Homo sapiens: one gene and its partners. The protein of the gene in region 7 interacts with the protein of the main gene of each other region in a pairwise test. Each region holds a gene or a part of one and is shown on either strand. Other genes may lie near its edges.

Region 1 (3,442 bases), on a different chromosome or scaffold from region 7:
GCACCCCGAGTCCCAGCTGGTCTGTCCGCCTGAGGAGAGTGAGCCTCGGCCACTGCCCATAACCTGGATGGGCAGTGAGTGGGGGTGAGTGAGGGCTGGACCCCCTCCCCACCCGCCCCTGCCTGGACCCACCGTGCTGTCCCCCCTTTTATCTTTTTGGGACGAAGTCTTATTCTGTCGCCCAGGCTGCAGTACAGTGGCACGATCTCGGCTCACTGCAACCTCCGCCTCCTGGTCAAGCGATTCTCCTGCCTCAGCCTCCTGAGTAGCTGGGGTTACAGGGATGTACCGCCATGCCCGGCTAATTTTTTTGTATTTTTAATAGAGACAGGGTTTCTCCACGTCGGTCAGGCTGATCTCGAACCCCTGACCTCAAATGATCCGCCCGCCTCAGCCTCCTAAAATGCTGGGATTACAGGCGTGCGCCACCACGCCCGGTCTGCTGCCCCCTTTTTACCACTGCCCAGGACCTGGGCTGTGGGGCCTATTGACCCCTCACCTGCGACCCTGGGAAGCTCTCGGCACCAGGCAGCGGCGGGGCCCCCTCCCTGTGGGTGACAGCGCGAAGGCACAGCAGCCAGTGACCGTAGTCCTCGTAGCTGGCGCACACCACGCGGATGGTGTTGATGAGGGGGCCTGGCATACAGATGCTGTGAGGGGCTGGCGGGGGGGTGCACCCCTCAGCGCCCCCACTAAAGAGTCGGGCGTCCCCCAGGCTCCCGCCCCACCATGGCCTGGCCAGGCGGGAGGCAGAACCAGGGTCAGGGCCCTACCTTCAATCAGGAAGGAGCGGATCTGCTTCTCCTTCTCCTCCAGGTTGATGTGGACGGCACGGAGTGGGAGCTCCCCCTGCGGAGCAGAGATTGAGGGCCAGGCCTTTGTAGGGGCAGCCCCGGGGCCCCGCCTGGCCTCATCCCACCCTCTTGCCCTCCAGAGCTTGGCTGGGTACTTGGAGAGCTGGGCACCGAGGCCACCACCCTGAGGGAGGCCAGTGGGTCCCATGTCTCCTGGGGCTACCACCAACCCTGGCGCGGGGGCCTTCGCCGGCTAGGGGCAGACACACAAAGCCACAGGACTGGCCTCTTGGGGTCCCCAGAGAAGAAGTTGGGCCGGGTGAACCATGGGGAGGGCCCTGTGTTTGTTCCTCAGTGACTGAAGGTTACCGTGAGTGCACACCCCCTTCCCGGAGCCCGCCCTGGAGGACACACGCACACGCACGTGTGCACACACACGCCTCACGGGCAGGCACACACAAGGGAGTCCCCGGGAGGGGCTCTCAGCCCCATGCTGCCCGCCCCAGGGTGACGGTCAAGAACCTCAGGGTGAGAACCTCAGGGCGGGCAGGGGCTCCTCCATGTCACAGCGGAGACCAGACTGACCAGGACCGCGGGCTGGGTGGGCAGGGCCCTGCGCTCTGTCTCAACAAGCCCCGAAATACAGGTTCCTCCTGCATGGCTGCCCCCTCCCACCCCCACACAGCTGCCTCCCTGGGGCGGGCCCACAGTGGGGAGGGGCCCACCTTGAAGCAAAGCCCGTCCAGCTCCTCGGAGAAAATGGCCAAGGACGTTGGGTACAGGACCAAGAGCCGGTCCCACTGCTCCTGGGTGGGTGGGGGTGGGGTCAGGCGATGAGGGAACTGAGCTGCTGTTGCACCGCCCTGCCCACCACCATGCACCCCTCCCATCCCCCTACAGCCCCACGCACCTCCCACCCACCTGTGCGGGCAGGTGCTGCAGCTTGACCCTCGAGGCACAGACAGCACTGCCGCCGGGTTCGTGCCCTGACGCCGTCCGCAGCCGGGTTAGACGGCGCTGCAAAGTCCAGGGGAGTTCGTCTCCGCAGGACCCCTGTGAGGAGGAGGTCAGAGCCGGCTGCGAGGATCAGGGTGGGGAGGGGGGTGGGGTCCCCGGCACTGACCTGTGGGGGTGCCGAGTGGCAGCGCCGCGGCCCCCCGAGGAGGGCCGTCTGCTTCTCCAGGTGGTAAAGCCAGCGGTCCAGCTCGGCCCGGCTGGGGCAGAGCACCAGGAGGGGTGCGGGCAGTGGGCCTGCGGGCAGGGCAGAGAGGGCACACACATACACACACGTGCTCCGCAGCCACAGGGCAGGCCCCTCTCCAAGTCCTGGGTCAGGAGTGCCTCTGGGGGCCCGGGAAGCATCCCAAACACCTGTGATCTGGAAGGCGTGCTCTCGGGACCCCTCGAGCGGGCAGACACTCAGCTCCGTCAGCGGTAACAGCCCCTGCCAGGCACAGGGTAGGAGGAGCTTCAGGGATCCATGGAGGGAAGGGCGGCCATGGCCCCACCCCATTGCCCACCGCCTCACCTGAAATGTGAGTCCTTCCGAGCCGTGGGCCTGGAAGTACAGGTGGGCGGGGAATAGCTCCAGGTAGCAGTCGCTGACATCCTGCGCGGGGAGCAGGGTCGTCAGTGCGGAGTCTGGGGAGCCCCAGGCTGATGGGGATGCTGCACCCTTAGCGTGCTCCACCCAGCCCGGCCCCCACCTGGCTGTGCTGGAACCGCAGCTGGACCTTGGCGTAATGCACAACTTTTCCCAGGTTCCTCACAGGCACCCTCCGCCGCCCCTTCTTGAACACACTCAGGAATGGCTGCTCCAGGTTTTCTCGCTGGTTCTCCAGGTCCAGGATGTCCTAGGAGGAGTAGAGCTCAGGGGAGGGGGCCTCCCCTGGGCCCCCCACCCCCTCCGCTCGCATCCACACAGCTACAGGACTATAGCATGGTCTGCCTGTGCATAGCCACACAACACATATGTGAAGAACAGCCCCCCACAGGCACAGAACCTGTGCACAGCCACACAACACATACGTGAAGAACAGCCCCCCACAGGCACAGAACCTGTGCACAGCCACACAACACATACGTGAAGAACAGCCCCCCACAGGCACAGAACCTGTGCACAGCCACACAACACATACGTGAAGAACAGCCCCCCACAGGCACAGAACCTGCACACTCAGCCTTTCCACAGGAAAACAGTCACGGCAGAATTTACACACACGTGCATACATATATGCATACATGCATATTCGTGTACACGTACACGCACACACACCCGATACGTGCACATGCAGGCAACATGCATGCATCCATATATGCGCACACATACACATGTATAAATGCATACACGCACACATGCATACACACACAATAGACACATACATGCCACACAATACAGACACAGATGCATACACACGGGAACACACATACGCACTTATACACACATGTACACACACGCACACATATGCATGGATACACACGTGCACACATACACAGTTGCACATACACAGATATGCACACACGTGCATACATGCATACATATCCACACGCAAATACACCCATACACATGTATACACATACACACGTGCACATACACACGTGCACACATACACATGCACACCTATACACACATGCACACACATGCATGC
Region 2 (3,500 bases), on a different chromosome or scaffold from region 7:
AAATAAAGCCAAAATTTTCCCAGTATTTTTCTGGTAAGAAGTCTCAGTTATATGATTTATTGATAGTGCATATATTATAGAAGGTGTGTTAAGATTTCCTGAAAGATTTTATTTATTTAGACATATTCTTGGTCTTATTTCATCAGAGATTGAAAGTTTTTTAGAATGTGGTTTATTTTTTTTCTCTCAGAATACATCCTTTTAAATTAAGATGAAATTAAATTATTTTCTTGCCTGTTCAAAATGATTGTAGGAACACTCTGTGAAGAAAAAGAAGAAAAAAGACAAGCATTCAAAAAAAGCAAAGAAAGAAAAGAAAAAAAAGAGCAAGAAACAGAAATATGAAAAAAACAATGAGTCATCTGATAGCTCATCAGTAAGTATGTACTAAAATTAATCAAAGCAGCTATTTGAGAACATTTTATTTGAATGTGTAACTTATGGGAAGTTAAAATACAAGAAAACGTAAAAAATATATTACTAGTTATGATATGAAAATATCTGGGATACATCTACTTAGAGATGTCCAGAAAATATTGGAAATGTTGATCTTGAATTTCAGAGAAAGGCTAAGAGGATAGGGATATGATTTGGGAATTATTGCTAAGCACAGCACTGGATCTTGCCCAAGGCCTGCTGTAACAATTACCTGGCTACAGCTGGTGTTCACTCAAGGCCCTGGGGCTCTGCAATCAGCAGGTGATGAAGCCAGCCAGGCCTGCGTCTTTCCCTTCAGGGTGGCAAGTTCCCCCAGGCCTGAGGGTGGGTCCAGAGGTGCCATCAGGGACCCAGGTACTGGCGTCAAAAACCTTAGACTTGTACCTGGTGTTCTATTGAACTGTGGCTGAGCTGGCATTCAACCTATGAATGGCAGTCCTTCCCACTCTTCCCTTTTCACAGGCAGAGGGGCCTCACCCTGTAGCCACCACCATAGACCCACAGGTAGTACTGGCAGGCTACCACTGATGTTCCCTTAAGGCCCAAGAACTCTTCAGTCAGCTGCCCGGCCTGGGACTCACCCTTCAGGGCAGTGGGCACCCCCTGGGCCAGGGCAGATCCAGAAATGCTATCCAAGAGCCAAGGCGTGGGGCTGGAGACCCCAAGATCCCTCTTGGTGTTCTACCACCCTGTGGCTGAGCTGGTACCTAAGGCGCAAGACAGAGCCCCCTTTACTTTTCTCAAGCAGAAGGAGGCTCTCCCCATAGCCACCACAGCTGGGAATGTGCTGAGTCTCACCTGAATCCAGCAAGTCTCAGATACACAGTGAAGGCCACAGTGTAGTACCCGATTATTGGTGCTGGTTATTCAGGGCCTAAGGGCTCTTTAGTGGTTACCAGCTATGGCTGAGCTGGTATTCAAGATGCAAGATGGAGTCCTGTATTTACTCTTCTCTCTCCTCTCCTCAAGCAGAAGGACAGGGTCTCTTTTGGAGCTGCACATTGTGCAGCCTTGGGTTGGGGGAGAGGTGGTGTAAGCACTCCCTTAGCTGCACCAGTTGCCCCCCAACCACCTGTCCATTGGCTCTGAGGCAAGTTTAGCACTAGGAGTCACCAAGGAATTCCACATCCTTGCTAGTACTTGGTATTGTCAGTCTTAGTAATTTTTAGCTATTCTACTGTGTAATGTCTCGTGTGATATTTCTCTGAAGAACAAGGATGTAGAGCATCATTTTAAGTCCCCATAGGGCATTCCATGTCTTTGTGAAATCTGATTTATTAAATATTTTCTTTTTTGTTTTTCATCATTTTTTCTTAGTGCTTCTGGTATCCTAATTTTTGCGCACCTCAAGATTGTGATTTCTCCTATGTTTATGTTATTATTAAATTTTTTTGTTTTTTGTTTGTTTTTAGAGATGGAGCCTCACTATGTTGCACAGACTGGAGTGCAGTGGCACCATCATGGCTCATTGCAGCCTCAAACTCCTGGGCTCAAGCAATCCTGCTGCCTTAGCAGCCCAATTAGCTATGACTACAGATGTAGTACAGAAAAGTTGTTTTTGTAGACATGGAGTCTTACTATATTGTCGAGGCTGGTCTCGAACTCCTGGGCTCTAGTGATCTCCTGCCTCAGCCTTCCAAAGTGCTGGGATTACGGGTGTGAGCCACCATGCTTGGCCTCCTATTTTTTTTCCCTAGAAGTTTTATAGCTTTGGCTTTTTTGCTTATTTATAATCCATTAATAATTTTTATTTATGTTGTGTAGTGTCAGTTTATTTTTTTCCCACGTGGATTTCCAGTTTTTCTAGCATCATTTGTTGAAAAGGCTGAATTTTCCCTATTGGAAGGAATTTAGGGAGATAGATATGTTAAAATATTCTTTCAATCCATTATGCACTTGGTACATCTCTCTATCCATTTATGTCTTTGATTTTTCTCACAATGTTCTGAAATTTTTAGTGTAGAGATCTTACATGTCGTTTGTTATTTTTTTTCCATTTTGTTTTCTGGAAGTGCTATCGTGAGTGGAATTTTAAATTAAATGTGTTTACAGCTAGTATGTAATTATAGAAGTGACTTGAAACATTAGGATCAGAAAAAAAAGAAAAAAGTGAAAAAAAACCTGCTTTTGATATATTCACCTTGCCTCTTATCACCATGTTAAAATTACTAATACTAGTGTTAGTAGCTTTTTTAGTAGATTTCTTAGGATTTCTAGGTAAATGGTATGTCATGTGTGAAAAAGACTTTTACTTTTTTCTTTTCAGTCTCTGTGCCTGTTTTATTTGTTAATTGTTGTTGCCTTATTTCAGTAGCTAGGACTTAAAAATAGTGTTGAATGGAAGTGGTGAGAGTGGACATGATTGCCTTTTTCCTTATCTTAGGTGCAAAGCATTCAGGTTTTTACATTTAAGCATGATGTCTGCTGTGGGACTTTCATGTATGCCTTTTCAGATTAAGGAAATGACATTTTATTTCTAGTTTTCTGAGAGTTTGTATCTTGAATGAGTATTGAATTTGGTAAGTGCTTTTTTTGCATCTATAAGTGTTAAAATTTGCCAGTGAAACGGTTTGGTCCTGGAGTTTCTTTGTGGAATGGGTTTAACGACAGAGTTAATTCCTTTAATAGTTGTGTTAAATACTTTCTGTTTATTCTTGAGTTAGTTTTAGTAATTTCGGTTTTTCTGGGAATTTATTCCATAGAAATTGTCAAATTTATTGTCATAAAGTTATTTGTAATATTTCCTTTGTTCTTTTAATGTTTACGGAATCCATAGTGATACCCCTCTTTCATCCCTGATTTTGGTAATTTCTATTTTCTGTTTGTTTCCTCTGTCAGTCTGTCTTGAGGCTTATCAGTTTTATTAATCTTTCTTTATTGCCTTTTAGTTTCCTTGAATTTTCTCTGGTTGTGTGTTTTCTATTTCATTGATTTAAACTATATTTATTCTTTGCGAATACTTTGTGTTTAATTTGCTCTTCTTTTTCTAACTTTCTAAGATGAATGTATCGCCACTGATTTGAAATCTTTTCTAACGTGTATTTATTTTATAAAATTTTCTC
Region 3 (3,500 bases), on a different chromosome or scaffold from region 7:
GCTGGCGTGAAAACATAGCATCGGGAAAATCGGTAAAGCAAAGTTAATCCATCCCTTCTTATATTGGTTCTGGCTGCTATACCATGATTCCTTTATTTAGGCAAGATGTAGAAGCAAGAGAAACAAAAGCCAAACCTCCATCAGCCCTGTCCTAGGTCAGTCAGGGGACTCTTCATTTAAAGGCTGACTGGCAATGCCATATGATTAACAATTACAATTTGCCCCTGAAGCCTGAGTGGTCCATCTCTAATACCTGATTCTAGGCTGAGACATGAAGGGAAAATTTTAACAGCAACACCAACACCAAAAACAAAAAACACGTAAAGGAAGCAAGAGATAGATAACCTAGTGAGCTAGGAAAAAGAAGGAAGAAAAATACGCAGAGGGCTTCTGCTACATTACATATCCTGGAGCGCACGTGTAAAAGTCCCATGAATGTGCCCCGTGTGACAAAGCTATCCTCCACATTAATACAAATCTCTAACCTCAAAGAAACAGAAGTATTCAGGTTGTCTTTGTCTCTTTAACACAACCACAACAGAGACCTACTATCATGTTCCCCAATTCAGGCAAGGGCTAACTAATGTTCCTTGGATGTGCTGTTTAGATGCTGCAGTTGATCTGCAATGTGGATTTTAAGGTGATCCAGAGATCTGGGATTTTACCATTGCTGTGGCTGGTACACTCACAGTCCCAGAACCAAGCAACACACACTAAACAAGAGGGAACTCAAAAGTCTGACTGGCATACCCTAAACTCATCAGGTATTGCAGGCCACTCTTATTATTATTACATAAATAGAATCTCTCCTGATCTTCAAGGCCTTCCAGGTGACCCTCATCACTACATTTCCAAAGAGCTGACTAATTCTAAATGCCTTAAATTCCCCAGCAGTCCCCAAAGGTGTGTCACCATCCAGCCTGTTTTTCATCCATAGAAAGCCCTGTTTACAGGTATAACCAAGCAGGAAATGACAAATTTTTTAGTAAAATCATTTTTAATTAAAACAAAACTTTCTAGGCCAGGCATGGTGGCTTATGCCTATAATCCTAGCACTTTGGGGGGTGGGAGGACTGCTTGAGCCCAGAAGTTTGAGACCAGTCTGGGCAGCATAACAAGACCCTATTTCTACAAACAATAAAAAATGAGCCGAGCATGGTGGCGCACACCTGTAGTCCCAGCTACTCAGGAGGCTGAGGTAGGAGGATCCCTTGAGCCCAGGAGGTCGAGGCTACAGTGAGCCATTATCGTGCCACTGCACTCCAGCCTGGGTGACAGAGCAAGATCCTGTCTCAAAAAAAAAAAAAAAAAAAAACTTTCTAGATTACACTGAAACATGTGACTGACACCAGGCTGCAATATCAATAATATAGGACTAGAAACATTTTAGTGAATAAATGTCCCACCAGAGAAGTTCACTTCAAGTGACATTATAATATTCTTAACAGAAAGAACTTGGGCTGGGGGTGGTGGCTCATGTCTGTAATCCCAGCACTCTGGGGGAGGCCGAGGTGGGAGGATTACTTGAGGCCAAGAGTTTGAGACCACCCTGGTCAACATCAAAAGAAAAAAGAAAGAAAGAAAAAAAAAGAGTACATAAAGTACATAAAAGACTCAAACACATTCTATTATAAACATTAGGTATCAAAATAATAACTCACCTGTCTTTTAGCTTCTCTCAGTTTTCTTTTGAGGGCTGTCAAAATTCTTTGTACTTCCCATAATCTTTCTTCTTTAGACAAATCCTTTATCCCACCCTGCAGATCTCGATGTAAACAATTCAAAAGAAACTCCTAGAAAGCAAATGCCACACACCTAGTTGCATTTCATATCCTCTTATCTTAAACTAACAACACGTGCAATTTCTAAAGATGAAGAATCAACTATTTTTCAATTATCCTTTATTTCATTAGAGTAAAATAATGGCACTAATTATTTTTTTGAAGATATGATTGAAAAATCATTCTTATTGTTTTGCCTATTAATTATTCACTAATTTGTATTGGTTCAATAATACTTAATCCACATCCCCATCTCCAATGTCATCATCATTAACTAGTAAGCATTGGGAGCTCAGGGCAGATACAAGGGAAGAAAAGCAAGCAGGGGTTTGATAAATTGCATGCAAATAAATAATCAAATGTAATTAACTTTCTTATTTAGTCTTGAATTACACACACACACACACACACACACACACGGCATTGTTACTTCCATCAAAATAGCACAGTAAAAAATCCCAGGATTTGGGCTCAAATCTTGGGTCTGTAATTAGTAATCATGTCACACAGGGTAAGTTACTTAACTTCCCTGAATTTTAATATTCTTATCTATAAAATATGGCTGATGACAGCAACCTTGTCAAGAAAAGGCAAACATCTTTAGACTATTTACAACGTGCCTGGCATGTTTCATATATTATCTCATTTGGGGTAATCTTCACATCAATCCTATAAGAGGATCCATTTTAAAGCAAGAACACCAGTGCTTAAGGTGGTTAAGAATTTGCCTAAAATCAGTTAACTAGATCAGAGCAAGAATTTAAAGCCAGGTGTTTTGATTCCAAAAACTATGCTCTTTCCACCATGGTATTCTGACTTATTTGGCATGAAACAGTACCAGATGGGAATTTCTGACTTCAGTGTGCCTAACATAGCTCCAGACACACAGAAAGTGTTCAGGAAACAAGAGCCCATCACCACTGGACTCCACAACAGCCAATGCAGAGGCAGGCTGTGGCAGGCAGGGTGCACACACCTGTCTCCTGATCTCCTCCTTGATGCCCGCCTGGGTCTCTGGCAGCGTGGGCATCGTGGCCATGTTAGACCATCGCAGAGGTTTCATCACTTGCTTTAGTACCACATTTCCAAAGAGTTCTTGCACATGTGTGAAAAACACATACAGGACTCGATTGCTGATCTAAGAAAAAAAGATTTACAAGAAAACCATTAAAACTATCATTCTATTTCACTTATTTGTGTCTATTACATAATATATCCTTTAATCCTGGACACATAAAGAAAATTCTACCCAGTAATGACAACACAGTCTTTGCTAGTTAATAGCCAATTTAAGAAGAAAATGGTAAAATATGAGTTAAATCATGTATTCAAGCACCAGAAAGATCTGAAGGGAAAAAAAGTCAAGAAAAGGATAGAGAAGTTGATGCCATCCATTTGTTTATTTTTTCTATCACAGTATTAACTGATTTAAACATCTTATTTTTTGTGTGTTTTTTGTTGTTGGTGGCGGTGGTGGTGCTTTTTTGAGATGGAGCCTCGCTCTGTAGCCCAGGCTAGAGTGCAGTGGCACAATCTCAGCTCACTGCAACCTCCACCTCACGGGTTCAAGCGATTTTCCTGCCTCAGCCTCCCCGGTAAGCTGGGATTACAGGCGTGTGCCACCATACCTGGCTGATTTTTTTGTATTTTCAGTAGAGACGGAGTTTCACCATGTTGGCCAGGCTGGGCTCGAACTGCTGACCTCAAATGATCTACCCA
Region 4 (3,500 bases), on a different chromosome or scaffold from region 7:
CAGCCGCAGGATGGCCTTGGAGCCTTGCAGTTACAGGGCTCACGCCCGCCCTCTTTCTGGGGAGCCTGTGCTTTGGGGAAGTAGCCCAAAGGTCATGCTTGGGGCAGCGAGGCTGGCTACCCTTTGGGAGGGGCCTCCACTGTGTGGGATGGTGTTGTGGGGGGCTCTGTCCTCAGGGGCTAGGCCACCCTTCTCCCCATGCTGTGCAGGGCTGATCAAGTTGAGGGACTGGCCTTGAGAGGAACCCACAGCAAATGAGATGAAGAGAGTGAATGAGAGCTGAGGATGCCCCCCCTGGGACCAGAGAGCAGAGTGCTAGGGGCCGAGCCAGCTAGAGGCCACCAGGACAGCTGCGTGGAGCATAAGCCCTGCACCAGGACCCTGGAGGGAGACACCAGGCTCGGCTGCTTCCCTGGAGGGCACTAATGTGCCAGCTGACATCGGCCCTTCACCTACATTCCCAGCCCCAGAGCCAGGCCCAGGCTATCCAGGGGGGTCCATTTCAGAGCAAGAGGTGGGGAACCCTGCAGCAACACAGGCCCAGTGGTGCTGCCCTCTGGCACCCAGGACTCATGCCTCAACCTCCCTGTGACATGGCACCGCAGGGGGGAGCATGTCACATGCTGGTCCATGAAGCTGCAGTCCACAGCATCCCTGCTTTAGGGAGCTGCAGGTCTCCCTGGGCCAAGGGATGAACATGGAAAGATGAGTCATTAACAGAGATGGTGGGGGCAGAGCGAACACGGCCTGCCACGGGAGGTGGGCTGTGGGGCCTTCTGGGGACCAAATCCTGCCTGGAGCCCAGGCGACCAGGGATGGACGGGGTAGGGAGGACCCCTGGGCAGGAGGCAGCTCAGACAGGCACTATCCCTGCCCTGCTCCCTCTTGGCCACACAGCTCTCTCTGGGCTAAAATGAGAGGGCAGCTCTTGTGTGTGTTTTCCTACTGAGCAGGGTAAGGAAGAGAGGTGAGGAGAGGTAAGCCTTGTCTGCATAAACCCTCATACACCAGCCCCAGCATCGCCCTGATTCCCTCCAAATCCTAGAGAGGAAAATGCAAATGGCTTTAACATCCAAACACCCTCAGGGAGGAAGGGACTCATTTTCCACCTGGCCAGTGCAGCTGATCATTCCTGTCTGGACTTTCTTCTGTGAACAGTGATCCAGTCTCAAGGGTCTGCACTAACTGGCCACTCGCTCTGGCAAGAGTGGTCCCCCGTGGTGTCCCTGTACCTAGGGAAGTGATTGGAAACTACTGGGAAGGAAGGGACACCAGAAAGTAGGGTGGGGGCCAATTTCACCTGCCTTGAAAGCATTCTCGGGGTCAGCACCACGGGCAGCTCCTGCCAGATCCTGTGGATCCCTTGTGAAGTCCACGCTGGCCCGGACGATGCAGAATTTCCAGCTGCTGAAATTTATCAGGACCAGACAGTTCTCGGTGGCCCTGGCTACATTTGGTAGGTGCATAAACTATGGGATTGGTGAGCCAGTGAGAACGTTTGCAGTCACCATGCAAACACTTTCTTAGGGTCACTGGGCTGAGTCTTCAAAACGGATATACGGTAAGGCCAAGTGAATAGTATTGCTTTCCCTTATTGGAAAACTTCAGTTGTTTGTTTCAGGATAGAAACATGCATCTCCTGGGGAACAGCTTCAGGGGAAGGTTTGTCTTGCTGTCTTGCTCTCTTGCATGTGAAGTGTGGTTATGCAGAGGTTGCCTACACTGACACCAAGAGGCAGCACCCACCGCCCCTATCCCAGAATGAATATTAAAACATCCTAGAGAGCTGTAGAGAGCTGATCTGCAAGTAGATTGCAAAGCATGCATGCTCTTGGAAACTCATTCTGCCTAGTAACAAAGTCCCTGAAGTTTTCAACTTGCGGGCTGAAGTTTTGGATTTGGGGTATTTTCTTCCTGGAAGAGCTCAGAGCATTTTAAATGTTCTTCTGTGGAGCTTTGCCACAGGAATATGATGATAAAGCAAAAGAAAGCCCTGTGGGGAGTGGAATGGACTGACCCCTGGGATCTATGGAATGAGGCAGGGCTGCACCAATTCTCTAGACAGAAGGTGCTGCATTGGTGTCCTGGGGCTGCCATAACAGGCTGGGCGGTGCCAAGCAAGAGACATTTATTCTCTCACAGCTCTGGAGGCTGGAAGTCCAAAGTCAAGGTGTTGGCAGGGCCATGCTCCCTCTGACATTCTAGGGGAGAATTTATTCTTTGCTTCTTCCAGCTCCTGGTGGCCCCAGGTGTTCCTTGGCTTGTGGCCACATTGCTCCAGTCTCTGCCTCTCTGGCTGCATGGCCTCCTCTGCTGCTGTATCAGATCCCCTCTGCTTTTCTCTCATCAGCACACTTGTGATGGGGTTTAGGGCCCTCCTGGATGACCCAGGATCATTTCCTCATTTCAAGACCCTCCACTCAATCCCATCTGCAGAAACTCTCTTTCCTAATAAGGTCACATGCACAAGTTCCCGGGATTAGGGCATCATCTCTGGGGCCATGATTCTACCAGACCTGTGGCCAGTTGTCTTTTCTTACTGTAGGGAAGGGGTGAAATCCCTATAGAGAAGACCGTGTGAGGGGGGCCAGTTCACAGGCAGATGCATGTTCTGTTTTCAGCCATTGAAAGCACGGTTTAGACACAGGCTGAGCTACGAGCAGAGACTTCCATTCCAGGCTCTCCCCCTACCCAATACCTGGGTACTTCTCCACAGTACCCAGGTATTGGGTCAAATGTTATTTTAGATGTCACTGTGAAGGTATTTTTTAAAAATGAGATTAACATTTAAGTCACTAGGCTGAGTAAAACAGAATGGTCTCTGTTTTACTCCAGATGATAGGGTTGTTGGAATCCATGGTACTAGCTCAATCTTTTTAAATAGCTGAAAGTCCTTATTAAAAACATTTAAAGCTTTTTAAATAATCCCCAGGCCACAGCCCTGGGGAGTCTCGGCTCTCCCAAGTCTGGGCCTTTCTCACATGGTGAACGCTGATCGCCATTTCTCATGGACCCAGCTTCAGAGACACATTCTTGATTTCTCAAGAAAAGGCCTCCTCACCTAGCCACCAAGGCTGCAAAGACCTGCCAAGGCCACTTAGCTTTGGGCTGATTTGCACCAGCTGCCAGGAGGTGCAAATGGCGACAGGGACGCTGCGTGTGGGTTGACTGTTTAGCTTCCACAGCAGAAGTTTACTCTCCCACAGTCCTGGAGGCTGGAGGTCAGAGATGATGGTGTTGCCAGGGCTGGTTCCTTTTGAGGCCTCTCTCTGGGGCTTGCCGGTGGTGTCCCCTCCCTGTGTCCTCACAGGGCCATCCCTCTTGTGTGTCTGTTTCCTCATCCCCTCTTCTTATAAGGGCAGCAGTCAGATTGGATCAGATTGCATCACCTGTGTTGCCTCATTTAACCTTAAATACCTCTTTAAAGGCCTTGTCTACAAATACAATCACATTCAGTGAGACTGGGGGTTAGGACTTCGAGATAGGAATTTTGGAGGCAC
Region 5 (4,286 bases), on a different chromosome or scaffold from region 7:
TTTCACTCAGCCCTGATGTGTATGAGGGAACAAATGCCTGAGGATCTTTCTCAGGTAGCTGAGCTGAAAAGCAGCTGGGCTTGAGGAGACCCTTTCCAGCCCCTTCCCATCTACTCACCCTGATTCCCACGGTTAGGGTCATTATCCAAATCATTCCCCTGGAAGTCTTCGGCCCGTTTATTACACATGAAAGGTGGGAGGGTGGCCTTGAAACCTAGAAAGAAGCAAAATGTTTATTCCTTAAGAGACAAGCTTGGGCCTGGTATGGTGGCTCATGTCTGTAGTACCAACACTTTGGGAGGCTAAGGCTGGAGAATTGCTTGAGGCCAGGAATTCAAGGCTGCAGTAAGCTATGATTGCACTACTGCCCTCTAGCCTAGGTGACAGACTGAGACTGACTCAAAAAAAAAAAAAAAAAAGGAAGAGACAAGCCGAGAGAAGGTAGGGTGGGTGTGTGTGGGGTGGGGGTAGGGGGGTTGCCGGGATGCCACAGAGACAGTTGGGCTCATCAGAACAGAAGCCTAAGGGAGAGAAACGTGCAGGATCCAGGTATAAGCTCCACTGTGGCCAGTCCCTGCCCTCAGCCCTGACAGGATACAGAAGAGCAGAACACCCAGAAGCTGCCTTGCGATTTTTCCCTGCACAAAAGGAAAATGTGAGGTACTTTCTGCAGCCTAAGAAGTAGCCAAAGCAGGAAAAGGGATGCTCATGTGTCCCCAGACTTGTCTGTTCCCAGAACTTTCTGTTACCTAGTTTAGTCATAGCCTCATACTTTCTCTTCATATACACATAGAAGATTTTCTCCGAGGCTTTCATCTTTTCCCACTCTTCCTTAGAGAAGTATTTGGCAATATCATCGAAGGCCTACAAAAAAAAAAAAAAGGAATTATGGCAGGGACTCAGCTAGGCATGTCTGCCATTCAGCTGGAGCCGCTTCCTGTGTGCTAGATCTGGGAACTGGGGATGATAATCCTTCCTGGTTGATGCCATGGCTAACTGACAGAACACGAGGGACCTTCCCTAGCTTCACCCCTGCCACACAGTAGGGCTTTAATGCTGCTGGCTGGCTCTCTTCCCACCTTCCAGAATGGACTGAGAGTCACCAGATGTAGTGCAAGGTCACAGACTTGTCTCCAGGGATGCTAGGTGATGACAGAGCGAGGGTGGGAGGCTCCCAAGGGTCCAGATCTCCCCCGAGACCCTGCTCCTTGTCTCCAGTATCTCTGTCCTCCCCTCCTCAGAAACCGGGTCACCCCACACTGTCCCCTGGGCCACTACTCTGCTCCCTCCAGGTCACCTCACCTTTTGGATCTTCTCTGGTATTTGAGCACCAACCGTGGGTCTCCTTGCAAAGGCGTCGTCTCCGTTCATGGCACCGGGAGCAGTCTGACCTGCAAGAGAAATAGCCTGAGTCTTTCCAGCCACAGCAGCTTTGATCCTGTGGAGGGAGAAGTCAGTGAAGGCCGGCCACCCTCAGTCACCTGGAATCAGCTGCTGCATTTCTCCATCCGGGGCTTATCTGTCCCTGAGTAAGGATATGGGGAGAAATCAGATGAAAACAGGGAACCAGGGGTCTCTGGGAGAAGTATTGATAGGGAATGACAGGTTTCCTATGGGCAAAGCAGCCTTGAGTCTTTGGGAGGGGGTTGGCTAATGTTGTTAGTAGTTTCCCTGGAGCTAGGCTTACCCTGAAAGATGTACGGACCCTTTTTGGGGAGGCAGGGACATGACTGTGTAATTTTATTCAGTGGGGGCATGCTGACACCCCCACTCAATAAATAAAGGAAGGGAAGTTAGTCCCAGAGATAACATGGTCTCTTTGGCGATGGATCTGATCAGGCAGAGGGATGGGGGGTTCTGTTCTGTTGAAGAGAAATGAGCATCGCTAATATGAACGTGTTCAGAGGCTATTACTCGGTGATTTGTAAATTATTAGAAGGAAGAGAGCTAGAATTTCTGAGACTACAAGAGCCCGCCATCACTTAGAGAGAATGTGGGGCATTTCAAGATGCAGCAATCAGCCAGGCGCCGTGGCTCACGCCTGTAATCCCAGCACTTTGGGAGGCCGAGGCGTGCAGGCCGCTTGAGCCCAGGAGGTCGAGACCCGGCTGGGAAACACAGCAAAACCCCCGTCTACAAAATACACAAAAAGTTAGCTGGGGTTGGTGGAGCAGGCCTGTACCATCCCAGCACTTTGGAAGGCCAAGGTGGGCGGATCGCCTTAGCCCAGGAGCTTGAGACCAGGCTCGCAAACGTAGCAAAACCATCTCTACTAAAAAAAACAAACAAAATTTAGCAGAAGCGGGGTGGTGCGCGCCTGTAGCCCCAAGGCCTAGGCGAGAGGCTCACTTGAGCCCAGGAGGAAAGATTTGAGTGAGCTTTTTTGGTTTTTGTTTTTTCAGACAGGGTCTCGCTCTGTTGCCCAGTCGGGAGTGCACTGGCGTGATCATGGCTCACTGCAACCTCCGCCTCTTAGGTTCAGGCGATCCACCAGCTGTGGCTTCCAAAAGTGCAGGGATTACAAGTGTAAGCCACCACGCCCGGCCCAAATTTCTTAAGTTACTACAGAGTTCCTAGGAAAAATCCCGTACCTGAAAAAGTTAGAAACTGACAGGAAAGATTCGAGATGGCGGCCTGCCTCATATACACTCCTTATTAAAACTAGATAGCAAATGCACCGCGGAGGAGGGGAGGGGTAGGAAGAATGGAAAAAGAAAATCGGCGTATGCTTACTCTGATTTTGGAAGAATCCAAAGAGAAAATCAGACCGTGCGTACTCTGAGTATGGAAGAATCGAAAGAGAGAGAAAGTCAGAGCATGCGTACTCTGAACTTAAAGTAGCCAATCCCAGGGGATGCTTTAGGCGGGAAAATTAGAGTCTCCACCCCCACTTTGAGAAGGTTCCGTCCCTGGAGCCGGGACTGATAGAAGCCACATCCGCTTCGCTTGTTCCGCCTACTGTTCTGACTTCTAATTGGCCAGATGGAGTTCACTAACTGCCCTGATTGGTCCATCATCCTTGGGCAGTGACATAGCAGAATAATGTCTCCTCCTCCAGCCACACTTTGTTGCCACTGCGAAAAAGTGGGTGGTCCTCAGGCGCCGTCAGATTTTGAACTCTCTGAAGACCGTTCCTGGATCTTGGGTTAAAAATCTGGATTCTAGTCTGAACTGTGGGAAGAAAAAAATAGTCAATCTGTGATTTTTCTACTTGAAAGACACGATGTTTTCCAAACTAGCACATTTGCGGAGGTTTGCTATACTTAGTCGTGGCTTTCATTCTTCAGTGGCTTCTATGTCTGTTGCCACTGAAAAAACAGTCCAAGGCCCCGCAACCTCTGCTTACATTTTTGAAAGGGAATCTTAAGTATGGTGCGCACAATTACCATCCTTTACCTGTAGCCCTGAAGAGAGGAAAATGTATTTACTTATGGGATGTGATTGTGGTATTGGTTACATCTGCCTTGGCCAATCCTCCAGCCTCCGTCTTGGGACTACAGGCGCGAACCACCCTACCCCCACTAATATTTTTTATTTTTTGATTTTTTAATAGAGAAGGTTTCGCTGTGTTGGCCAGGCTGGTCTTGACGTCGTGGGCTCAAGCGATCCTCCCACCTCGGCCTCGGGACTACAGGCATTCACCACCCAGCCCACGCTTTTTTTTTTTTTTTTTTTTAAGTAGAAACCAGGTTTTGCTATGTTGGCCAGGCTGGTCTCATCGTCCTGGGCTCAAGGGATCCTTCCGCCATGGCCTCGAGACGACAGGCATGCACCACCCTGCCCACGCTTTTTTTTTTTTTTTTTTTTTTAGTAGAAACCGTGTTTCCCTATGTTGGCCAGGCCGGCATCAAGCTCCTGGACTCAAGGGATCCTCCCATCTCAGGACTACAGCCATGCACCACCCTGCCCAAGCTATTTTTTGTTTTGTTTTGTTTCGTTTTAGTGGAAACCGGGTTTCGATATGTTGCCCAGGCTGGCCTCAACCTCTCAGGCTCAGATGATGCTTCCACCTCGGCCTCAGAACTATAGGCGTGTGCCATTCTACCCCGCTCATTTTTATTTATTTATTTATTTATTTATTTTTTAGGAGAGGCAGGCTTTCGCTTTGTTGGCCAGGCTGGTATCAAACTCCTGGGCTCAAGCAATGCTCCCACCTTGGCCTCAAAACTACAGGAGTGAGCCACCCCGCCCACGCTATTTTTCTGTTGTTCTTGTTGTTAGCAGAAATGGGGTTTCGCTATGTTGGCCAGGCTGGCCTCGACCTCCTAGGCTCAAGCAATCCTCCC
Region 6 (3,500 bases), on a different chromosome or scaffold from region 7:
AGAAGTATATGAAACAAGTGTAAATAGTAAATCATCCTTATAAAATATAGTGCTTAGTTTTAAGCAGGTTATCAAAAGCCTATGCTAAGAAGCCTCCACTGGTAACATCCCTTTTAAGAAATAAAAATGTTAGCCTAGCCATCTTCTTTCCCTAATGTTAGTGACTGACAATTATGATTAATTTCTATCTTACAACACTTAGCTAGGGAGCTCCAATCCATATTTCTAGTGTCTATACTTTCCTATTCCACATCTTCAGTTAACTGTAAGTTAGAGATTTCTATACTATACTGTTTTCAATAAGAAGTCCGGGTTGTGTACTCATTCCTCCACTATACACCTGTGAACAAATTTACTGTCTTTCCCACTGACAGTCCGGTTGTCATTATACATCTCACTGCTAACAACCCTTAGTGTATCAAATGACACTACCCACACCCCAAATCTTGCTATACATTATTCAAAGTTTACCTTACTTTAAGTCCACTATATCTATTCACATTTATATGCTCTTAGTCAGAAAATAAAATACCTCTCTTGAAATGGGCCTGACTCCGGAGAGGGAGACCAGATTCGCTCCGCCTCCCGGGTTCCCGCCATTCTCCTGCCTCAGCCTCCCCAGTAGCTCTGACTACAGGCGCCCGCCACCTCGACCGGCTCATTTTTTTGTATTTTTTAGTAGAGACGGGGTTTCACCGTGTTAGCCAGGATGGTCTCGATCTCCCAACCTCGTGATCCGCCCGCCCGCCTCGGCCTCCCAAAGTGCTGGGATTACCGGCATTAGCCACCGCGCCCGGCCAGGTTTAAATCTTGAGTCTACCACTTTCTTCTAACTGTAATCTTGGGCAAGTTACTTACATTTCCTATACTTTACTTTCCTCATCTGTCAAATGAAGCTAATAACTACCTATTTATGGGATATTTTGAGTATTAAACGAATGAGTACATGTAAAACACTCAGAACGGTGTTTGGTGTTTGACTAATACTTTATCAGAATTTGCTATCATTATTATTTGGTAATGATAATCTTTTCACCTTTACTTAAGTTGTTCCCTAGCAAGAAATATTTCTCCCCTTTTTCTGTCTACTTAAATTGTAACAATCCTTGAGTTCCCATTGCCTCCATCAACATCTTCTGACCATGTAAATTTGCTTATTCTGATGTTTCCCAAAGCACTTATTTATTGGTGTATTGTTTATTTTGGTGTTTCAAAATTTCTCATGAATGTGTAACTGGTTTGCCATTATAGTCAGCAGTTCTGCGGTAAATGACCACGAGTTATATTTCTTTTGAACCCTTTGCAGAACCATCATAAACTGTACTACCACTTAAGGTGTGTGGTCAATAAAAATTGGTTAAGGTAGATTTATTCCAGAAACCAACAGCTTTAAATAACAAATGTATTTTAGATGACTAATTTAAATTTGTATTCATTTTGACTTTTATTTAATGGCTTTTCAAAGACTAAGTTTACAATTTCATTTCCTCTAGGTGCTTGCTCTCTTTCTACTCCTCCATGTGCCTACCAAACCGCTTCTCTAATCTCTGAACATACTGAGCCGCTTTTCATTTCCTAAACACGTCAAATGCTTTCACATCTGCATGCCTTTGCACGTTGCTCAATTTGCCTGAAAATTCCTTTCCTCACTGCTCCCTGGCTCCCTCATCTTCCCCAACCCCGAGCAGACACACTTCCTGTAAGTCAACCAGTTCTAGGGAGTTCTTTTTTCAAGACCCAGCATATCAGGCCTTTGATGCTTCCCTAACACTTCAAGAAGGATGGCTCTCTCTTCCCTCAGTATAGCTCTATTTAGCATCGATTACACTCTTCTGTGAGTCTTTGATGTCCTGTCTCTCCCGTAGCTCCGGACACCTCTAAGAAATAAACCAGATTTTATCCACCTCAGCTTCCACAGAGCCTAGCACAGTGCTTTATTCTTAAAAAAAAGAAAATTAATTAATTGTTACATAATTTTACATATTTGGGAAAATTTCATCACAAGCTTTTTATTTTTCCTTTTCTTACAAAACTATCATTTAGTTTTATTGTGTTTTCTAAGGAGAAGGGGCTTATTCACCTTTAAGAAATTAACCTGTTATATAGAATCTTCCAATTCTGAATGAGATTCAAGATATCATAAAATAAGCTTAAATAACCCTCCTGCGGTACCTTTTAAAATAGAGAAACTAGCCGAATTTTAATGCAGGATTCACGTTTTAGCTATACGCCTCTAAAAGGGGCAGAGGAGATCTATATATAAGGGACAATCAATCCTGAAAGGTTATTATTACTGCTACTTTTTAAAACATTCAGAAATGCTTTGGATCTTAATGATACTTTGATTTAAAGGTAAAGATGAAATGACTGCTGAATACAATTCACAAACGCGTAATTCCACAACTTTAGACGTCAATAAAGTTTGCTTAAGAGAAAATGCCTATGAATTACCTATTTGCCTTGTGTTTCACTTGAAAAGTGCAATATTGCGACAATGATTTGGCTACTGGAAGTGGGATATGGGTTTCCTGGAGGAGACTGAAGCAAACTTCAGAGTAAAAGGAGAATCTCCTATATGAAAACCTTCTGTATCCTGGGTAACAAAATTTGTCTGCTTTGCTTGACTGATGAAGATTAGCTGACTTCCCGCATTAGTTTGTCTTGTAGGGGCTGAAGTGACAAGACAATAACTAAGTGCTAATTGTGCATAACCGGCACTAAAGATATGCAGTCCCATTATGGCATGTAATAAATGAAGCGAACACAGAAATATATTAGGTACTTTAATAATGATACTAGAATAGTATTTCGCAGCAATAAGAATGTGAACAGTTTTAGAGTCAAAATTTAGGAGTGTTTGTCTTACTTGACTGAGTTCTCCTGAGGAGACAGACTTAATTGTGAATGCAACTTTTTATTTCAATGGTGAAATAAAATAGATATATGATTTGTAAATAGCATTAACAACCTACAATTACTTTGCATCATAATAGAATTTAGGCTGGGTTTAGCACTTGAATGTTTTTATTTTCTATGTAGAACATGGATAAAATAGGTAACCCTACTTAATAGAAGAAAATGGACAAAGGACATAAACTGCCTACTTCTCTAAAAGAAGGAATACCAAAGGACCACCAGGGATCAAATAAATGCCAGTTAGAAATTATAATGAAATACTATCTTTCATCCCTTAAGGTGGCAAGGATTTTTTTTTTTTTTTTTTAAACGTAATTCCTAGTGTTTTAGAATGAATGTGAGGGAATGCGTAGTTTTGTAGATTTCTGCTAGGAGAATAATTGGTATAACTTTCCTGGAGATCATTAAGCAATGTACAGCATATGCCTTCAAACTGTTATATACCTTGTTTAAGTAATCATGCTCTGTGAATTTAACCAGATAGAGATATGAGCATTTGTTTTTATACAATCTGAATATCTACATTTAGCAAGAAACTCTATTGTGATATATGTCTTGTGGGAAAGTCAAGTTAGTGGACTATT
Region 7 (3,500 bases):
CCTGCCTCAGCCTCCTGAGTAGCTGGGACTACAGGTGTGTGTCACCACGCCTGGCTAATTTTTTGTATTTTTAGTAGAGACAGGATTTCACCGTGTTAGCCAGGATGGTCTCGATCTCCTGCCTCGGCCTCGACCCGCCTTGGCCTCCCAAAGTGCTGGGATTACAGGCATGAGCCACCGTGCCCGGCCGCTTTTTAGCAAATTTTTAAAAAATCAAAGAATAATCCTTTATTATTGAATGCGAACTTGGTTCTGGCCAAACACACATTTAACAATTCTCAACTAGAGTTTATATATCCTTCTTTGTATATCTAGGATATGAATAGATATTTCTGTCCTTCAGCATTCCATTTACTATATTTTACAGTATACTGACCTTTAAGTTATTCTGAACAGGAAGATAATATAAGGGGCAAAATACTTTTTAACAGTCTTATATTCTGCCTTTCTACAGCAGAGGCAGATTTTGACATAGTAACAAAGGGGCAAGTCTGTGAAATGACCAAAGAAATTGCTGACAAAACAGAAAAGTATAATAAATGTAAACAACTCTTGCAGGTAAGTTAACTACCTTGTAAGTGAAAGAGATTTATAAAATGTTAATGACTTAGCTTACCTTTATTGTTTCAATTGATTGGTATCTTTGAGTTTCTTTTCCATCTCCATATAGTGTTACTTAGTTTCACTTTGGCTTTTGGGATGATGAGGTGGGCGTTTTGTGTACCTGTTCACATAGGCGTGTGTGTAGCATCATGAGACCTAAAGTTACTATTTTCTTTTCACCTAATAAAATGTTCTTGTTTGGGTAATGGGCAAATAGTTAATTGAGGTTAGAAATTATCTGTCATCGTATAAAGATGCATGAAAAATATTTGAACTTCATAAAAGGGAAGTGCTGTTTTTAAATTTACTATTATCGGCCAGGTGCGGTGGCTCACGCCTGTAATCCCAGCACCTTGGGAGGTCGACGTGGGTGGATCGCTTGAGGCCAGGAGTTCGAGACCAGTCTGGCCAACATGGTGAAACCCTGTCTGTACTAAAAATACAAAAATTAGCCAGGCTGTGGTGGAGCATGCCTGTAGTCCCAGCTACAGTCTCCTGAGGCAGGAGAATCACTTGAACCCGGGAGGCGGAGGTTGCAGTGAGCCGAGTTTGCACACTGTACTCCAGCCTAGGCAACAGAGCGAGTCTCTAAAAAAAAATAATAAATAAAATAAATTACTATTATAATAGCAAAGATTTTTACATCTTAAAGTGACTAGACTTGCATAGTGGAAAAGGGAATGTTAACCAAATGAATTGTCTCTTACGGTGTTTATTTTGATTATTATTATTTTATTTTATTTTTTTTTTTGATACGGAGTCTCACTCTCTCGCTCAGGCTGGATTGCAGTGGCGTGATCTCAGCTCACTGCAATCTCCGCCTCCTGGGTTCATGCCATTCTCCTGCCTCAGCCTCCCAAGTAGCTGAGACTACAGGCGCCTGCCACCACACCCAGCTAATTTTTTGTATTTTTAGTAGAGGCGGGGTTTCACGATGTTAGCTAGGATGGTCTCTATCTCCTGACCTCGTGATCCACTCGCCTCGGCCTGTCAAAGTGCTGGGATTACAGGCATGAGCCACCGCGCCCGGCCTATTTTGATTATTTTAAACAGCTTCATTCAGACTTTTCTGGTTTGCAGCCTTCTTGGTGTAGTATTCAGTACTGGAATATTTAAAGGAAAAGGGAAAATGCTTCTCATTTATATCAATTTGGCATAGAGAGGAAAAAGTGTTGTTTGTGCAAGTGATTTTTGTTTGTTTTTTTAAATGTGCTTTGTGTGTTTTTGTGTGCATTGGGGAGGGGAGGGGCATTTTTTAGAGCTATAGAATAAAATTTACACATTAGCTTCATGTTACTGTAATTTAATTTACAGTAATTATTTAAAATATTTTGTTGCTTATAAATAGCAAAATCTTTTAACCAAAGTTAAAATGAATTTTTTTTTTTGCTTGAGAGAATCCTGTGGAAGGGTTGATTAGAACAGTTTTACTCTTGAATTCAGGGTAGTTTTTTGTAAGAGTGAACTACATTTTCGTTAAAGATGAAACAATTCTGGATGAATATTTCAAGATTTTTCTATAGAAATAGTATTGAAAGGAAGATAGAATAATGTTCAAGCAAAAACCTTCCTCAGGGTGCTTTTTTTTTTTTTTAAACAACCATATTGAGGTATAATTGAAATCCAATGAATTGCACGTACCTAGAGTATACAGTTGGATCAGTTTTGACATACACAGTTGTGAAACTATCACCACAGTGCCATCACTCTCCCAGTTTTTTTGGTACCTGTTTGCAACACATCCCTTTCGTTATCCTTATCTCTAGGAAATTATTGGCCTGCTTTCTGTCACTATCAATTAGCCTACCTTTTAGACAATTTTATAAAATGGAGTCATGTAATATGTACTTTTTTCTACCCACTTTCAGCATGATTATTTGAGATTTATTCATATTATTGCATATATTTATTCCTTTTTTATTTTATCATTTGTTTATCCATTCACCACTTGATGGGTAGTTGGGGTTGTTTTTCGGCTGGTACAAATAAAGCTGCTTATGAACATTTGTTTAGAAGTTGTTTATGGACATATGTTTTTTTTTGTTTCTTTTGGGTAAATATCTAGGGGTGAATTGCCTGGGTGATATTGTAGTTGAATAACTCTGTAAGAAATTACCTCCTGGGTGCAGTGGCTCATGTCTGTAATCCCAGCACTTTGGGAGGCCGAGGTGGGAGCATCACTTGAGGTCAGGAGTTTGTGACCAGCCTGGCTAATATGGTGAAACCCTTTCTCTACTAAAAATACAAAAATTAGCTGGGCATGGTGGTACACTCCTGTAATCCCAGCTACATGGGAGGCTGGGGCAGGAGAATCGCTTGAACCCGGGAGGTGGAGGTCGCAGTGAGCCAAGACTGCACCACTGCACTCCAGCCTGGGTGACAGAGTGAGACTCTGTCTCAAAAAAAAAAAAAAAAAAGAAATTACCAAACTGTTTTGTAAGGTGTTTGTACCATCTTACATAGCCAGCCTAATGGGTGTGTACTGATAGCTCATTGTGGTTTTAATGTGCATTTGTATAATGACTTGATGTTGAGCATCTTTTCTTATGCTTATTTGCTCTTTATCTCTTTGTGTGAGTGGTCGAATCTTTTTGGTAGTTTAAATATAGGGTTGTTCATCTTGAGTTGTGTTTTTTTTTTTTCTGTATATGTCTTTTGTCTGATATATGTAAGGTGAATATTTTCTCCAAGTCTGTAGCTTGCCTTTTCATTTCCTTAATGATGTTTTTAGAAAAGCAAAATTTAAATTTTGATAAAGTACAGTTTATCAGTTCATTTATGTTTTATGCTTTTTACCTTCTAAGGAATGTTTGCCTAATCCAAGGAGATAAAGATTTTCTCCTGTGTTGTCTTCTAGAAGTTTTATAATCAGCTTTTCTATTTAGGTCTGTGAATCA

The links.
Region 1: the proteins of TAX1BP1 (region 7) and PLEKHN1 interact in binary tests that used the Homo sapiens proteins (3 or more experiments, as listed by UniProt).
Region 2: the proteins of TAX1BP1 (region 7) and CWF19L2 interact in binary tests that used the Homo sapiens proteins (3 or more experiments, as listed by UniProt).
Region 3: the proteins of TAX1BP1 (region 7) and RALBP1 interact in binary tests that used the Homo sapiens proteins (3 or more experiments, as listed by UniProt).
Region 4: the proteins of TAX1BP1 (region 7) and UBASH3A interact in binary tests that used the Homo sapiens proteins (3 or more experiments, as listed by UniProt).
Region 5: the proteins of TAX1BP1 (region 7) and SSX2 interact in binary tests that used the Homo sapiens proteins (3 or more experiments, as listed by UniProt).
Region 6: the proteins of TAX1BP1 (region 7) and LMO3 interact in binary tests that used the Homo sapiens proteins (3 or more experiments, as listed by UniProt).

What each region holds. Positions count from the first base shown.
Region 1 is NC_000001.11:969,482-972,923, reverse strand, and holds part of PLEKHN1 (pleckstrin homology domain-containing family N member 1), read right to left. Parts: intron 2,648-3,442; coding exon 2,501-2,647; intron 2,404-2,500; coding exon 2,323-2,403; intron 2,239-2,322; coding exon 2,166-2,238; coding exon of another isoform or gene 2,046-2,165; coding exon 1,918-2,045; intron 1,848-1,917; coding exon of another isoform or gene 1,812-1,847; coding exon 1,716-1,811; coding exon of another isoform or gene 1,705-1,715; intron 1,601-1,704; coding exon 1,520-1,600; intron 850-1,519; coding exon 774-849; intron 637-773; coding exon 500-636; intron 64-499; coding exon 1-63. UniProt on the Homo sapiens protein: Controls the stability of the leptin mRNA harboring an AU-rich element (ARE) in its 3' UTR, in cooperation with the RNA stabilizer ELAVL1.
Region 2 is NC_000011.10:107,451,326-107,454,825, reverse strand, and holds part of CWF19L2 (CWF19-like protein 2), read left to right. Parts: intron 1-253; coding exon 254-376; intron 377-3,500.
Region 3 is NC_000018.10:9,524,013-9,527,512, reverse strand, and holds part of RALBP1 (ralA-binding protein 1), read right to left. Parts: intron 2,920-3,500; coding exon 2,758-2,919; intron 1,794-2,757; coding exon 1,662-1,793; intron 1-1,661. UniProt on the Homo sapiens protein: Multifunctional protein that functions as a downstream effector of RALA and RALB. As a GTPase-activating protein/GAP can inactivate CDC42 and RAC1 by stimulating their GTPase activity.
Region 4 is NC_000021.9:42,427,902-42,431,401, reverse strand, and holds part of UBASH3A (ubiquitin-associated and SH3 domain-containing protein A), read right to left. Parts: intron 1-3,500. UniProt on the Homo sapiens protein: Interferes with CBL-mediated down-regulation and degradation of receptor-type tyrosine kinases. Promotes accumulation of activated target receptors, such as T-cell receptors, EGFR and PDGFRB, on the cell surface.
Region 5 is NC_000023.11:52,704,379-52,708,664, forward strand, and holds the start of SSX2 (protein SSX2), read right to left. Parts: upstream 2,801-4,286; 5' UTR 2,734-2,800; intron 1,392-2,733; 5' UTR 1,372-1,391; coding exon 1,303-1,371; intron 865-1,302; coding exon 750-864; intron 215-749; coding exon 119-214; intron 1-118.
Region 6 is NC_000012.12:16,554,163-16,557,662, forward strand, and holds part of LMO3 (LIM domain only protein 3), read right to left. Parts: intron 1-3,500.
Region 7 is NC_000007.14:27,795,662-27,799,161, forward strand, and holds part of TAX1BP1 (tax1-binding protein 1), read left to right. Parts: intron 1-454; coding exon 455-558; intron 559-3,500.